Homo sapiens: one gene and its partners. The protein of the gene in region 1 interacts with the protein of each later gene in a biochemical or structural test. Each region holds a gene or a part of one and is shown in the gene's direction. Other genes may lie near its edges.

Region 1 (4,954 bases):
CTCAGAGATAAACACTTAACATTTTTGTGTATTTACCCCATCTTTTAACTATGTATGTGTATAAATGTATATATTCATGTGTATTTGCATCTTTTTTAACTTAGCTAACCAATTTTTTAGGTCTTTTTTTCACTTATTTGGTTTTTTTCTAAATAGAATATTCTCATTGTGTGTGGAGCTCTTTTCAGAAAGAAGTTGTCAAGATGGACCATCATACTATACTTGTCTTCAACTAATCATGATCATTGATTTTATCAGCTACTATTAGAATCCATTAGATATAACAGAATATCCGAAATAACAGTGTCTATAACACATAAGCATTATTTTTCACATATAAACAAGTCTGGAGGTAGTGGGCTCTGTGATCTTGAAGTAACTGGTCTCCTATTTCTGTGCTGTAATCCCTACTGTATAGCTTCCATTCTCAAAGTTATCCTGTGCTCCAAAATGGCTGTTGAAGTTCCATTTCATCACTTCTACATTCCAGGCAATAGGAAGGAAGACATGGGGGCAGGGCAAATAGACATCCAAGTTCTTTGAAGGAACATTCCCAGATGCCTCTCTTAACAACATCCACACATCATTGGTCAAAGTAACATGGTCGAATGGCTACACGTAGCTCCAAGGGAAGAGGAGATCTGCCCTCTTTTATCTGATGACTTTTCTGTCCTAAATAAAATCAGAGTACTATTGCTAAAACAGAAGGGAAGAGTGGAAACTGGCAGAAGATAGCTGTGTCTGCCACAGATGGGTCTTCAGAAACTATCAAGTTGAGTAGAAGTCACCAGCCACTGACAAGCCCATGAGTCTCCATGAGTCACAAGTATTTCTTTGGAGCAGGGTTGTCTCACTGTAGTGTCAGATGAACCCTACTCACCGGGACATACCCTCATGCTTTGAGGAACCCTTTTCACTTCAGGGATGTTGTTCAGGATAGATCTGCCACATACTAATTGCTGTCTCAAAACTGAAAATTGTTATAATAATGGTTTCATGTCTTCGCTAGTATCATATTTCTAGTCAAGCACTGGTTTTTTATTATTATTTACAGAAATGACTTTGCTAGAAGGATAACCACACACATTAAAATTTTGCCTAAGTGTAGAACAAATGCTATTGTACATCCCTTGAGTTTTACACAATTTAAATTTTTTCATGAATTGTCTTACTTGGAAAGAGTCATACTTTCCAGCCTTTTGACAGACTTTGTGTTTACTGTGAATGTACCCTAAACTTTGGAAAATATAATAAATATTTGGTACTAGAAATATGTATAAGTATGACTACAAAAGCATATACATTTCACACTTTGATTCAATAATTATTATTTAATCATTGGATTTTACTTTATAGCACACTTCAAGAAACACCTAACTTGAACATGTATTCCTGTGTTTGTGTAATTAAAACAAATACGACAACTTACTTTTTAACGCCTTTCTTCCTCTCCTCCTTCGTTCCCCCACCCCCATCACAGATCAGTGATTTCACTTAGGTAGACTGTTTCTATGAATATATTTGAAATTTTGCTTCCTCATTACCCTGCAGCTTTGTCTCTGTTCTTTTTATTTTTTTCTGCTAATTAAAACCAGTGTGTAAAACATCTTGTATTTGGTAGTTGTTTGCTCTTTAATCTCGCCTTTTCTGAGCATGGATGAAAAGTTAGGTAGTTCTGCATGCCATTCTGCATGAAATGTTATTAACATGAACTATTTGAAAATGAGTCTATTTTTGTAGTTAATCATTTTCCGTGTTACTGTTTGTGGTTGTTTGCATGTATACTGTATATATGTGTTTTTGCAGCCTATTCCAAGCCTAAACGGGGCCACCGTAAAACTGCTTCATTTGGCAACATTCTGGATGTCCCTGAGATCGTCATATCAGGTATCATAGACCACCTGAGTTGGTCTAATAGCTGTGGAACCGGAATAATGATCCCTGGTACTTGTAAAATGCTTCTTGCTCCAATTTTTACAAGACATGAAAATGGATACCTTGCATGCAGTAATTAGGGAGACAGATTGAAAAACTACATTTATTCTGAAGCAGTCTTGAAAAGATACCTCTGATCTACAATAAGTGAGGATAAAATAGAAGAGAAAGTAAACCTTTTTGGAGAAGGGAGAACACCAACCCAGAATTCTACCAACTTCCTCTCTACTTTTAAGTGAGCACATGAGCTAAACCCAGACCTTTTTTGCACCCAACAGAAAGAGGAAACAACTAATTAAAATTTGTTATTTTCCTTGGCTCCTTTCCTTCCTCAGTTACTGCTTTTTGGGTCCCCTCTAGACTTTCTGTCCTAACCTCTTTCTGTTGGTAGCAAGTGAATGTGAAGTTGAGAGAAGAGAGTTGCTAAATAGCATTTTGCCTTAACCTGGAAAACAAAAAGTAAAGCTAAATGAGATGTGCTGTTTTGCAGGGTATCTTGCCAAAGAATCATGTAAAATAGTTGGTCAATTCTGATTTTTGTGTATTATCAGGAGAATCTCATAAATTACATGTTTTTATACCTAACTTACACATGGTACTTTAGTGTCTAAAATTGGTAAACTGCTTTATTTCTTATGGTGATCATTTCATAGAGGAATATGTTACCATTTTTAATAGAAACTTAAATGGCATATTGACCTTCAGTATTGATTAATGTATTATCAAAATTATCATTTATTTATCCCTTTAGGCTTTTCTCTACCTCTTTACCCAAAATCTTGATAAGGAAATACATATTTTCCACACACGTTCATGAGTGCGAGTTGGATGAATTCTTCAGCATGCTGTCCTTTGCCTGTGATTGTGTTTTTAGCAGTGTTGATAATTCTAGTTGAATACCTAATGGTTATTTTCTCCTCTACTAAACTGAAAACTATGTAAGGATAGAATCCATATCTTTGTGCATTATTTTGTTGTTGTTGCTTATTATTGATTGTATCAGCAGTTGCTGGCTCAGTGCTTCACATATTAAGCATATTAACATAGTGTTTAATAAATACATTTATTAAATAAATGAACAGACCTATTGAGCATCTCCCCTGGTGAGAAACTAGCATACAAAAATATGAATTATACTATTCTTAGGTGCCATTTTGTCTGTATAAAACTATCTTATATTAATTTTCCCCTGGTTATCAAAGTGGTTTCTTATTTTACAACATCATTACTATTGCTATTCAAAGAGTAGAGTTAACCCATTTTTCACATGGTAATTTTTATTTATTGAATCTGGACTGCTTCAGAAATTAACAAAGAGATCATTTTACATGGAGATCAGTTTACCTCCATGCGGAAAGGTACTGTGTATAAGGGACGTACTTTAAAGAGGTGGAAGCATTTAAACTTACATACCGCTGAACTGTGCTTCCCTTAAATGTTTGAGGGAATCAGGAAAATTTAGACAGATGGCAGTGTAATCTTATGACTAAGCATTAAGAATAAATTTATATATGGCAGCGTAGCCCACGCTATACAAGATAATGGGGGAGGGAAAAATAAGGAAAGAATAATAGTTTATAACTGTCAGGTACTACTGGCATCTAGTGGGCAGAGACCAGGGATGCTGCTAAACATCCTGATGTGTACCAGGCAGTCTTCTCCAACAAAGAATGATCCAGCCCAAAATGGCAGCAGTGCTGAGGCTGAAAACCCCTGATTAGATGTTCTTTGTGCCCTACAAAGTAGCTTAAAGTACATCTTATTTTACCTTTATACAATCTTACAACTAGGTTATCGGATGAAATTATAGCTGTTTAACAGACGAAGAACTTAGATCTGATGATGTTTAGTGGTTTTTCCAGAATCATATAGCCAGGACCCCAACCCAGATCTTCTGACTCCAAGTCACATCCATTTTTTGTTCTTTTGTTTAAGTCAGAGAAGCTAGAGTAATTTCTTCTTGCTTTCTCTTAGTGTTCACATTAAGGAGAGCTCTTCAGCCAGGGAGATCCTCTTTTATGACATTGGGCCTTTATGGAATCAGGTAACCTTAATTCTCTTAATTGCCAGAGCAGCAGTGCTATTCATATGAAAATATTATTCAGTAATACCTTTTATTAAATATTCTTTTTAGGCTTTTCCCCCCTCAGATATCAAACATTAACTTACTCAGGTGCACTTTCTTTAATAGAAGAATACAAGCTGTAGAATTGACACTAGTGGACATAAAAGCCAATCATGAATGTGCTCATAGGTAATGTTTTTAAATTAAATATAAAAATACCGCCCATCCTTTGGGAATATCTCAAATTTCCTACATGACATTTTAATTGTAAAGAAGGGTGATACTTAATTTCCAAAATTTCTTAATACTTTCTAGAAATTGTTTTGTTCTAAGTGGATTTCCCACAAGCTTTATGGTATTAGCAAATACTTCTTGATATATTCAAACTGTTTAATTAGCATTAAAACCCAATTGCAAGGATTCTTTTTAAATATAGCTTTTTAAAGATCTTATTTACATGGATAAGAGTTTCGTTAATACTTCCCTTTGGCCAAGTGCAATGTACTGAGTCTAATGTACTTCTTGGAATGAACTACCTCTCTTAATAAGAGCAATCCTTCAAGCATCACAAAAAAGGTTTTGTATATATATCTTTAAAGTCACTAAAATGTCTAACCTAGTCATAGGTAAAGAAATGCAAAGACCCTAATCTTGTAATCTTGTTTTTTGCTCGCTCTTCAAAATGTGTATACTATGCCATCAGTCAAATGTGGAAGAAAAAGCAACTTAGCAAAACAGCACTATTTATCAATTTAGTAGTCTCTCAGATCATACAGAAATTAACCTTTAATACCTTAGGACTCCCTGTGGGTCAGACTGTACAATTTTTTATACCTCTTCTACCATATTACTGGCTCTGAAGAACTGACAAACTTTTGTACGGTAACCCTTCCTTCTTTCCACTGTCCATCTGCCCTTAAAAGAGTGAGCTTTATAGATTAGCCTGGCTCCTTT
Region 2 (3,500 bases), on another chromosome or scaffold:
TATAATCCTTTGGTATATACCCAGTAATGGGATTGCTGGGTCAAACAGTATTTCTGGTTCTAGATCCTTGAGGAATTGCCACACCGTCTTCCACAATGGTTGAACTAATTTACACTACCACCAACAGTGTAAAAGTGTTCCTGTTTCTCTGCAGCCTCACCAACATCTGTTTCCAGACTTTTTAATGACTGCCATTCTAACTGGTGTGAGATGGTATTTCATTGTGGTTTTGATTTGCATTTCTCTAATGACCAGTGATAATGAGCTTTTTTTCATATGTTGGCCGCATAAATGTCTTCTTTTGAGAAGTGTCCGTTCATATCCTTCACCCACTTTTTGATGGGGTTGTTTTTTTCTTCTAAATTTAAGTTCTTTGTAGATTCTGGGTATTAGACCTTTGTCAGAAGGATAGATTGCAAAAAATTATCGCCCATTCTGTAGGTTGCCTGTTCACTCTGATGATAGTTTCTTTTGCTGAGCAGAAGCTCTTTAGTTTAATTAGATCCCATTTGTCAATTTTGGCTTTTGTTGCAATTGCTTTTGGTGCTTTAGTCATGAAGTCTTTGCCCATGCCTATGTCCTGAATGGTATTGCCTAGGTTTTCTTCTAGGGTTTTTATGGTTTATGGTTTTATGGTTTTATGTTGTAAGTCTTTATTCCATCTTGAGTTAATTTTTGTTAAGGTGTAAGAAAGGGGTCCAATTTCTGTTTTCTGCATGTGGCTAGCCAGTCTTCCCAGGGCCATTTATTAGATAGGGAATCCTCTCCCCATTGCTTGTTTTTGTCAGGTTTGTCAAAGATTAGATGGTTGTAGATGTGTGGTGTTATTTCTGAGGCCTCTGTTCTGTTGGTCTGTATATCTGTTTTGGTACCAGTAGCATGCTGTTTTGGTTACTGTAGCATTGTATAGTTTGAAGTCAGACAGCATGATGCCTCCAGCTTTGTTCTTTTTGCTTAGGATTGTCTTGGCTATACAGGCTCTTTTTTGGTTCCACATGAAATTTAAAGTAGTATTTCCTAGTTTTGTGAAGAAAGTTAATGGTAGCTTGATGGTAATAGCATTGAATCTACGAGTACTTAGGGCAATATGGCCATTTTCACAATATTGATTCTTCCTATCCATGAGCATGGATTTTTTTTCTATTTGTTTGTGTCCTCTCTTATTAATAAGAGGATTTTTTATCAGCAGACATGATTATATCTGTGATTTGTAAAGTGAACTGGATAGTGATCAAGCCCAGTGGGCAAGCTATTAAAATAATTCAAAGGAAAAATGAGAATAGCAACAGTAGTGATAGAGAAGAGATTTTAAAAAATGTATTTTTTTTCTCTCTGGAGATGTTAAGTATTTTTGAGAAAAGGAGTAATAATTGTAACTTGGCAAGTGTGTTTTGCCTTTCCTAGTTGAAACTACTTTTCAGCAGTGAGTGGATAGGTTGTGGTACATGAATTTTATTGTTACTCATTATTAAAAAGTGTCTTAAAAATATGTATGTCTTAAAAATATAAGTAATTTTCCTTGTTAATTATGAAATATGTAATCTCTTTTTTTTTCTCTTAATAGCCTTATGTTAATATTGGGGTTTTATTGTTTTTGCTTTTCAGTACTGTAAGATTGATGTTAAAGGCATGGTGTTCACCCCACTTCATCAGCGTACATAAGTTATCTCTTCTTTTGGACCCTTATTTTATGCCATAATGGTAAGCTTCAGCTCAGTATGTTCAAATTTGTGTTTTAGAATGTTCTCTTCCTTCATCTTCATAAAGATATTTGTATGGTAGATATAGAAATACTCTTGTAAGCTGTACAGGTTATCCCAACTGGGAAATTACTTAGCAATCCCATTGCAAAGTCTTCTCTATAAAGTATATTGCTCACTAATCAGTGTTACAGTGATCACATTCATCCATCTATCTGTGCTTGTATTTATGAAGTATTAAAAATATTTACCTATATCTACTTTGCCATATTCCAAATCGTTGGCAAGGAGGATGGGTATAAATACAAATAGTTTTGGGGAGTATAGATTTCTCGTATTTTAAAGCTTTTCTTTAGATTTTATTAAAATTTAAAAACAAATGTAACCTGCTAACTGCATATAACGTATTTCAGGCAGCATCAGTGCTAATCTTCTAATGGCACATTTCTGTTCACTGACTTACAGTCACTAAACATAGTTAGGAGTAGGCATTTAACTTTTGCCATTAAGAAATGACAGACTAAGGGAGAAAAACACTTTTTAATGTTTTAAAGAAGCAGCAGCATTTGACAGAGAATAAATGAACATTGACCACCATGTTATTTATTTAGATAACCCCTATTCTGCGTCACAAACTTCAGAAAACATCTGTCTTCCTTCTCCTCTTGGTTCTTGCCTATCTACTCCTCCCCTATTAGAGAAAAGTAGAAGTATCACAGTGGGGTTCTGACAACACCTTGTATTTTGCATCTATATTACCTAATCATTTTCCTCTTAAGTTTTTGAAGGAGATAATGAATGAATGATGCTTTTATTTATGTATGTATGCATGTCTCACTAGACCCTTTGAAGTTTTAATTTCAGAAGATGAAATATTTACTTGAGATGACTGGCTGTTTAAAATTGTCCTAGACTATATATATTTGATTTTGTTTATTATAATTTTTTGATACAAACAAATTTTATGGGCAAAATTTAAAAGAACCTTCTGTATTTGTGAAGTGTATATGTACAGAATTATGTTTTCATGGTGGAACATGGGATCAGGGAAAATGGGAGTCAGGAATCTTAACTTGAATCCTGGGAACCAGTTTCATTGGGAATCCGCTTCTTATAAGTTTTTTTTTTTTTTTTTTTTTTTGGTAGTGACAGAATCTCACTATATTGTCCAGGCTGGTCTTGAACTCCTGATTTCCCACCTTGGCCTCCCAAAGCTTTGGAATTACAGGCATGTGCCACAGTGCCTGGCCAAGATTTTTTAACAAAGCAAATTAGTGTAGATTTATTATAACTGAACGTTTTGAAAAGATGGCAGATTTCAGACTTTGTTCACTTATCATATTTAGATATTTGATAATGTGGGTTTTTTATTGAACAGTGCAAGAAGGCCCACTATTTTTGGAATTATACAAATTCTCCATCCTTAGGACTAGGTGGTCACTTAAAAGTTCCCATGATTTCCAAAGGGTGGCAGTATTTGTTTTTCCCCCTTACCCTCCTGGGACTTTGGTGGGTGGTAGGAGTTTTTACCCACATGCAATTTGGTAGGTTGAGGTATTGGAATCTGCAAAATAAGACAGAAGAATTTAAGTCCTTTTAAATAAAAACTGAAAGTTCTGTGCCTCTTAATAAAATTTAAAAATGACTATCATTATGAATGAAAAAGACTATAAAACAGAAAACTAGAAAGAAAACCACTGGTGGTATATTTGGGTTTTGTTTTATTTGTTTGTTGTTTTTGTTTTTTTTGAGATGGAGTTTTGCCCTTTTTGCCCAGACTGTAGTACAATAGCACGATCT
Region 3 (4,016 bases), on another chromosome or scaffold:
ATGTAAACATGAAAATACAAGAATTTAGGCTTGGTGTGGTGACTCACGCCTGTAATCCCAGCACTTTGGGAAGGCAAGTCAGGAGGATCACTTGAGCCCAGGAGTTCCAGACCAGCATGGCCAACATAGTGAGACCTTGACTCTACAAAAAATTTTTTAAAAAATTAGCCGGGGGTGGCATGCATCTTTAGTCCTAACTACTGGGGAGGCTGAGGTGGGAGGATTGCGGGGTGGGAGGCTGCAGGGAGCTATGATTGCACCACTGCACTCCAGCCTGGGCGACAGAGCAAGACCCTGTCTCAAACAAATAAAAAAATTAAAGCATAACCTGTAGGAGATAGCTCAATGAATGCTGATGTTTAGAAGAAAGATTTGGGTTATCTCCGATTATTTTAGAAAGGAGATGCATTACAGAGATCAGGGAACAGTCTCTGAGAAGGATCCCCTGGGTTTTATGGCCATACCTATTGCTTTTAGCTGTATAACCTTGAGCAAGTTACTTACCTGAGCCTCAGTTTCTTTATCGGTAATCTGCATTATAGCTGTGTTGTGAAGGTTCAGTGGGATGGTGCCTGCAAAACCTCCCCCGCCTCGAACCTGACACATAATAGGCACTAAGCGTAGCCGTAATTATTATTTAATAAATATGTTGTTCTATGTGGTGATGGCAGATTAAGGGGCTACTTTGGTGATATAATCTGCCCTCCTGGGGTAGAGTTGAGGGCTTTGGAGTTGGGTGAATTCCTCTCTAGCACTCACTAGACTTCGAGCACATCATTCCCTAACCTCTATGGCCTCACTTTTCTCATCTGTAAAGTGGCCAGAATAAATTCCAAGTCTTGAGAGTTTGCTCTGAAACTTAAACGTATATTACTCATAAGAGTTTAATACACAATTATTTTATTTCCTGCCAATCTAATGGCGAAGACATGGAATAACCCATCAAACAGCCCAGTAACCCCAGGAAACCAGAGGGACGGAAACCAGGGCGATGGGCGAGTCAGTCATGGCCAGTGCGCCGTGTTTCGAAGGGGACGGCCATGGAGCGGTGGGTGGTCGCTCAGCTCCCCAATCGCTCTCCGACACCCGGCTGGGGAGACAGGACCTCCCTGGAGGCCGCAGCAGCTTGATTGTCACCCGGGCAACCCCACCTTCCGGTTCCCTCTACAACCCCTTGCCCCGCTTCCGGTTCCGGCGTCGTGCGTCATCGCTGGGCGACTGATTTCGAGTTTCCGGTCAGGTTAGGCCGGGGGGGTGCGGTCCTGGTCGGAAGGAGGTGGAGAGTCGGGGGTCACCAGGCCTATCCTTGGCGCCACAGTCGGCCACCGGGGCTCGCCGCCGTCATGGAGAGCGGAGGGCGGCCCTCGCTGTGCCAGTTCATCCTCCTGGGCACCACCTCTGTGGTCACCGCCGCCCTGTACTCCGTGTACCGGCAGAAGGCCCGGGTCTCCCAAGAGCTCAAGGTCAGTGCTGGAGCCGGCCTGGCCTCAGCCGGGTCATCTCTGTCCCAGGTGCTGGGGAGCCCATGATTCACCTTGGCCGCCCCACCGTCGGAAACTGTCCAAAAAAGGAAACAGCCTCTGAAGGGTGTCATCCAGCCAGTAGATGGAGGAGCGAGGGGCAGGATTCGGGCTCGGGATAACGGCTGCTCCGCTCCTTTTCTCCCAAGTCCCTCTTATGACTCAGAATGAATCTTGACTTCATTACTTTACTCGAAAAATATTTATTGAACACCTGCGATGCTCCAGGCAGTGAGTCGAACAGATGAAAGTCCATCCCCTCGTGGAGATACCATTTTAGTACGACTAGACAGCAAACATGTAAATCAGGCGGTGTAACAGATGGTGAGCAATGCTTTAGAGTAAGGTAGGGGAGAGAGGACATGGAATGCTGGAGAAAGGGGGATCTCCTATCTTAAATAAGGTGACATTTGAGCAGAGCCTAGGAGGAGATGAGGGGAGTCATGCAGATATCTAGCGGGAGATGGAAGGAACAGCAAGTGCAGACATCCATTTACTGAACCACTCCACTCCTTGCTTTACAGACGCTTCCTTTTTATATTACAACTATTTTTATAAATGGCGCTTTTTTCTGAACTGTGCTTTACGGTTTACACAACACATTTGCATTTATTTTTATTTTTTATTTTTTCGAGATGGAGTCTTGCTGTGTCGCCCAGGCTGGAGTGCAGTGGCGGGATCTGGGCTCACTGCAGCCCCTGCCTCCCGGGTTCAAGTGATTCTCCTGCTTCAGCCTCCCGAGTAGCTGGGATTACCACGCCCAGCTAACTTTTTTGTATTTTAGTAGACACAGGGTTTCACCATGTTGGCCAGGCTGGTCTCCAGCTCCTGACGTCGGGTGATCTCCCCGCCTCGGCTCTCCGAAGCGTTGGGATGTAAAGGCGTGAGCCACTGCGCCCAGCCACATTTTCATCTTGATTTTATTTTTTTCTTAACAATAATTTTTTTTCCTTTCTTTCCTCTCCTTTTCTTTTCTTTTTCTTTTTCTTTTTTTTTTTGAGACGGAGTCTCGCTCTGTTGCCCAGGCTGGAGTGCAATGGCACGATCTTGGCTCACTGCAACCTCTGCCTCCCGCGTTCAAGTGATTTTCCTGCCTCAGCCTCCGGAGTAGCTGGGATTACAGGTACCTGCCACCACGCCTGGCTAATTTTTGTATTTTTAGTAGAGATGGGGTTTTGCCATGTTGGCCAGGCTGGTCTCCAACTCCTGACTTCAGGTGATCCCTCTGTCTCAGCCTCCCAAAGTGCTGGGATTACAGGCGTGAGCCACTGCGCCTGGCCCACAATAATTTTTTGAAGTAAATAAAATGACAGTTACCACCACATTGCAAATCAGAAAATTGAGATTTGGAGGAAAGGCCATACAGCTAGTCAGCTTGAAACTTAAATTTAGGTCTTTTGATTCCAAGGGTAGGATTTTAATCTGATTGACATTGCTTTATTGTGACTATCTGACTGGTCCAGAGAGATGGACCTCTTTAGGTCAGAGACAGGGTCTTATTCATCCATTCTCTTTCCTCTAGCTTCTAACACAGTACTTGGCAAGTGGTAGATGCTCAGTAAATGTTTGTGGGTTCTTTTTGGCTGAAGTTTCACAATACAAGAGCTAAGGGCCTAACCTAATTTGATGTTTATATGAAAGATGGATTCCTAAACCTGACTAACTTAATTATCAGATTGTTTTCAGTAAGGGTTTAGAAACTAATGTGTGGGCCAGGCTACTCCAGCCTGGGTGACAAGAGCAGGACTCCATCTCAGAAAAAAAAGAAACCAATGTGTGAACTCCAGTCCCTGCCATGAAGGGAGTTTTGGAATCTGGAAAGAACCAAGTTATGAGGCAATTGGATTTGCTGTGCAGTGGCGTTATAGTGAGATTCCAGCTGCCCTGTATTTCTCCTGATTAAATAATCAAGTTAATCCTGAAGTGATTAGCTCTGTGTATCTGATACTTCACTTTCTGACTCCAAACCACTTTGGCCTCAAGTTGGCTGGAGGAGGGCTTCTTTGAAGCAGTGAACTCTTTAGGTCTCATCTTTGGGTGACCTTAAAACCTTTGCCAAACAGTTCCTAAATGAGGATGAAATAGCCCCTTCCTGGAAAAAAAGTTGGGACTGTTAATATTTTAGATTCTATTTTCTATTTCCTTCCTCTCTTTCTCCCTCCCTTCCTTCCTTTTCTTTCTCTTTGGCCTTCCTTCCTGTCCTTCATTTCTTTCTTCTTTCTTTTTTTCTTTTTCCTCTTCTTTTTTTTTTTTTTTTTTTTTTTTGAGACATGGTCTTACTCTGTTGCCCAGGCTGGAGTGCAGTGGCACAAACATAGCTCATTGCAGCCTCGAGCTCCCAGGCCCATGCCAGTCTCCTGCCTCAGCCTCCTAAGTAGCTAGGACTACAGGTGCACACCACCACCTCCAGCTAATTTTTTATTTTTCATAGAGATGGGGTCTTGCATGTTGCTCATGCTAGTTTTGCACTGCTGGCCTCAAGCAGCTATCCCACTT
Region 4 (3,500 bases), on another chromosome or scaffold:
GAAGTCAGCCAAGAATACAGTTCCCTGGCTGGTTAGGCTGCTTTGGCAAAAATGAAAGTAACTAAAAAAGAGCCTGTGTTGCCAAGTCCACCAATTTCCTTCTGTAAAGGGAAGGAACATGATGCCAAAGAGGAGTTGGGCAGATATTTCTTCTGATGGGAATGTGACCCTCATCGGGTAGATAATCACCAACGAAACTACAGTGGGAGGGCATCAAGAGACAACTGAAACAGGGAACTACACAAGAGTGAAGTTGCCTGTGGACTGACAGAGCTTCCTGCAGAACCACTGCTGGGTTGGATATACATGAATGACAAAGGAGCTCTTTTCCTTGTATTAGGTACTGTCAAATGTACCTTCAAATGAAAGGGTGTGTTTGGTCTTAATTAGCTGAATTCGTTGAAGATCTTCAATTAGCTGCAGCTTTTGCCGGAATGTGTTTAGCTGGGCAAATTCCAAATCGGTTGAGCTGCACAAAGGTGGCAGTACATAAAACATATCTTGTAAAGGGGAACTGCCCAATTCCACCCATAATTGTTAGAAGAAATACTCCCTAGAGGTTACTGAAATGTTGAGAATGCAAACAAACACATTTGGACTGGTTCTGTGATGAAACTAAGGTATCCCTTAATTTTATGTCTTTGACTTAAGTGATGATTGTTGCTGTGATAAGAGGGCCTCTACCTTCGTAGACTTTTTGTATGACCCTACTACTGGGGGAGCAGGATGAAGTGAAAGCCTGTTGAAGACTTACTAGTTCCTTTGCTCCAAATTGTGCTGAATGATGAACAGATTAATATCATTCAAAAGAAAGGAGGCCGGGTGTCCTGGCTTACACCTGTAATCCCAGCACTTTGAGAGGCTGAGGCAAGAGGATTGCTTAAGCCCAGGAATCTGAGGCTGCAGTGAGCTAGAATCATGCCACTGCACTTGTACTACAGCCTTGGCAACAGAGTGAGCCCTTGTCTCCTATAAAAAAAAAAAAAAAAAAAAGGAAAGGGCTGGGCATGGTGGCTCACACCTGTAATCCTAGCACATTGGGAGGCCGAGGCGGGTGGATCACCTGAGGTCAGGAGTTCGAAACCAGCCTGGCCAACATGGTGAAACCCTGTCTCTACTAAAAATAAAAAAATTAGCCGGGCATGGTGGCACATGCCTGTAATCCCAGCTACTCAGGAGGCTGAGGCAGGAGAATTGCTTGAACCTGGGAAGCAGAGGTTGCGGTGAGTCAAAATTTTGCCACTGCACTCCAGCCTGGGTGAACAGAGCAAGACTCCATCTCACTTTGTTGCCCAGGCTGGTTTCAAATTCCTGGGCTCAAGCAATCCTCCCACCTTAGCCTCCCAAAGTGCTGGGATTACAGGTGTGAGCCACTGTGCCCAGTCAAGATTTCTAATGTATCCTAGTCTTGATGAATTAAACAAATAAACCTTTAGGATGATGCAAAAGCAGAATCTACAGTCACTTTAAAGCAGTGTGATGTAAAGAAAAGGGTGGCAGAGTCTCTTGGTGCTATGGGACCCAAGGACATTTACATTGGTGTGGATAAAATGCCCGGAGTGGTGAAAAACTTTATTGTCATTGTTGGACCATGGTGCATAATGTATTGTTATACCTGCTAATAAAAAATTAAACAGCAATTAACTTAGTTTAGTATGACAATACAACTGTAAGTTTAAGAGTGAAAAATGGGCCAGGTGTGGTGGCTCAGGCCTGTAATCCCAGCACTTTAGGAGGCTGAGGTGGGAGGATCACTTGAGCCCAGGGGTTTGAGACCAACTTGGCAACATAGTGAGACCCCCCCCACCAACACCCCCAACACGCTTGTCTCTATAAAAAATGGTGGTGTGCTCCTGTCGTACGAGCTGCTTGGGAAGCTGAGGTGGGAGGATCGCTTCAGCCCTTGAGGTTGAGGCTGCAATGGATGGTGATCAAGCCACTGCACTCCAGCCTAGGTGACAGAGCAAGACCCTGTCTCAAGAAAAAAAAAAAGTGAAAAATGTCCATATAAAAACTTGCACACTAATGTGCACAGCGGTATTATTTATAATAGCCAAAAAGCGTAAACAATCCACACATCCATCAACTGGGTTGAGGAATAAAATATGGTATATGTGATAATAAAGTGTGGTATATCCACATAATGAAATATTATTTGACAATGAAAAGGAATATGAAGTACTAAAACAATACAACATGGATGAATTTCGCTTCCTTTTTTTGTTGTTCTTTTTATTTTATTTTTTAAGCACCTCTACCAACATGAACATTTTGCAAAGTGAAAGCAACCAGACACAAAGGACCACGTACTGTATGATTCAATTTAAATGAAATGTCCCCAGTAGGCAAATCTATAGAGACAGAAAGTAACATAGTAGTTGCCTAGGGCTAGGAGGGTAATGGGGGACATGGAAAGCAACTGCTAATGGGCACAGCGTTTCTTTCTGGGGGGATGAAAATGTTCTAAAATTGATTGTGGTGGTGGTTGTGCATGTTTATGAATATGCTGATATTTATTGAACTGTACATTTTATTTACTTTTTTTAGAGACAGAGCCTCACTCTGTTGTCCAGGCTGGAGTATAGTACTGCAATCATAGCTCCCCGCAGCTTCATATTCCTGGGCTCAAGAGATCCTTCCACCTCAGCCTCCCACGTAGTTAGGACTACAGGCACATGCCACCATGCCCCGCTAAGTTTTCGTTTTCTTAAAAAAAAAGTTTTTTTAGAGACAGGGTCTAGCTATGTTGCCCAGGCTGATCTCAACTCCTGGTCTCAAGCAATCCTCCCGCCTTGGCCTCAAGAGCATTGGGGTTATAGGTATGAGTCACCGCACCCTCAGTTGTTCATTTTAAATGGGTGAATTTTATGATGTGTGAATTATATTTCTTTCTCTTTTTTTGAGATGGAGTTTCACTCTTGTCGCCTAGGCTGGAGTGCAGTGGTGCGATCTCGGCTCACTGCAACCTCTGCCTCGTGGGTTCAAGCAATTCTCCTGCCTCAGCCTCCCGAGTAGCTGAGATTATAGGCATGCGCCACCATGCCCAGCTATTTTTTTTGTATTATTAGTAGAGATGGGGTTTCACCATGTTGGCAAGGCTAGTCTTGAACTCCTGGCCTCAGCCCCCCAAAGTGCTGGGATTATAGGTGTAAGCCACCACAGCCAGCCCCAACTAGCTGGGACTACAAGCACGTGCCACCACACCTGACTAATTTCTTTTTTTTTTTTTTTTTGTATTTTTAGTAGAGATGGGGTTTTGCCATGTTGGCCAGGCTGGTCTCAAACTCCTGACCTCAGGTGATCCACCCACCTCGGCCTCCTAAAGTGCTGAGATTACAGGCATGAGCCACTGCTCCCGATGGATTATATTTCAATATAATTCAATTATGCAATATAATTGCATAATTGTTATCATCTCTCCCTGATATATTATCGGAATGGATGTGACATCTGAATGGGGATGCTGTTGAGGAAAGAGATTTCATGAAATGTACAGTGAG

The links. The genes of interacting proteins can lie anywhere in the genome.
Region 2: the proteins of MAP3K7 (region 1) and SUPT20H form a complex in vitro, tested with the Homo sapiens proteins (one large-scale study listed by BioGRID).
Region 3: the proteins of MAP3K7 (region 1) and MUL1 form a complex in vitro, tested with the Homo sapiens proteins (one study listed by BioGRID).
Region 4: the proteins of MAP3K7 (region 1) and NAIP form a complex in vitro, tested with the Homo sapiens proteins (one study listed by BioGRID).

Annotation. Positions count from the first base shown.
Region 1 is NC_000006.12:90,541,485-90,546,438, reverse strand, and holds part of MAP3K7 (mitogen-activated protein kinase kinase kinase 7), read left to right. Parts: intron 1-1,806; coding exon 1,807-1,887; intron 1,888-4,954. UniProt on the Homo sapiens protein: Serine/threonine kinase which acts as an essential component of the MAP kinase signal transduction pathway. Plays an important role in the cascades of cellular responses evoked by changes in the environment.
Region 2 is NC_000013.11:37,049,689-37,053,188, reverse strand, and holds part of SUPT20H (transcription factor SPT20 homolog), read left to right. Parts: intron 1-1,605; 5' UTR 1,606-1,698; coding exon 1,699-1,701; intron 1,702-3,500. UniProt on the Homo sapiens protein: Required for MAP kinase p38 (MAPK11, MAPK12, MAPK13 and/or MAPK14) activation during gastrulation.
Region 3 is NC_000001.11:20,505,352-20,509,367, reverse strand, and holds the start of MUL1 (mitochondrial ubiquitin ligase activator of NFKB 1), read left to right. Parts: upstream 1-1,216; 5' UTR 1,217-1,343; coding exon 1,344-1,463; exon of another isoform or gene 1,464-1,841; coding exon of another isoform or gene 1,842-1,844; intron 1,845-4,016. UniProt on the Homo sapiens protein: Exhibits weak E3 ubiquitin-protein ligase activity. E3 ubiquitin ligases accept ubiquitin from an E2 ubiquitin-conjugating enzyme in the form of a thioester and then directly transfer the ubiquitin to targeted substrates.
Region 4 is NC_000005.10:71,015,340-71,018,839, reverse strand, and holds part of NAIP (baculoviral IAP repeat-containing protein 1), read left to right. Parts: intron 1-3,500. UniProt on the Homo sapiens protein: Anti-apoptotic protein which acts by inhibiting the activities of CASP3, CASP7 and CASP9. Can inhibit the autocleavage of pro-CASP9 and cleavage of pro-CASP3 by CASP9.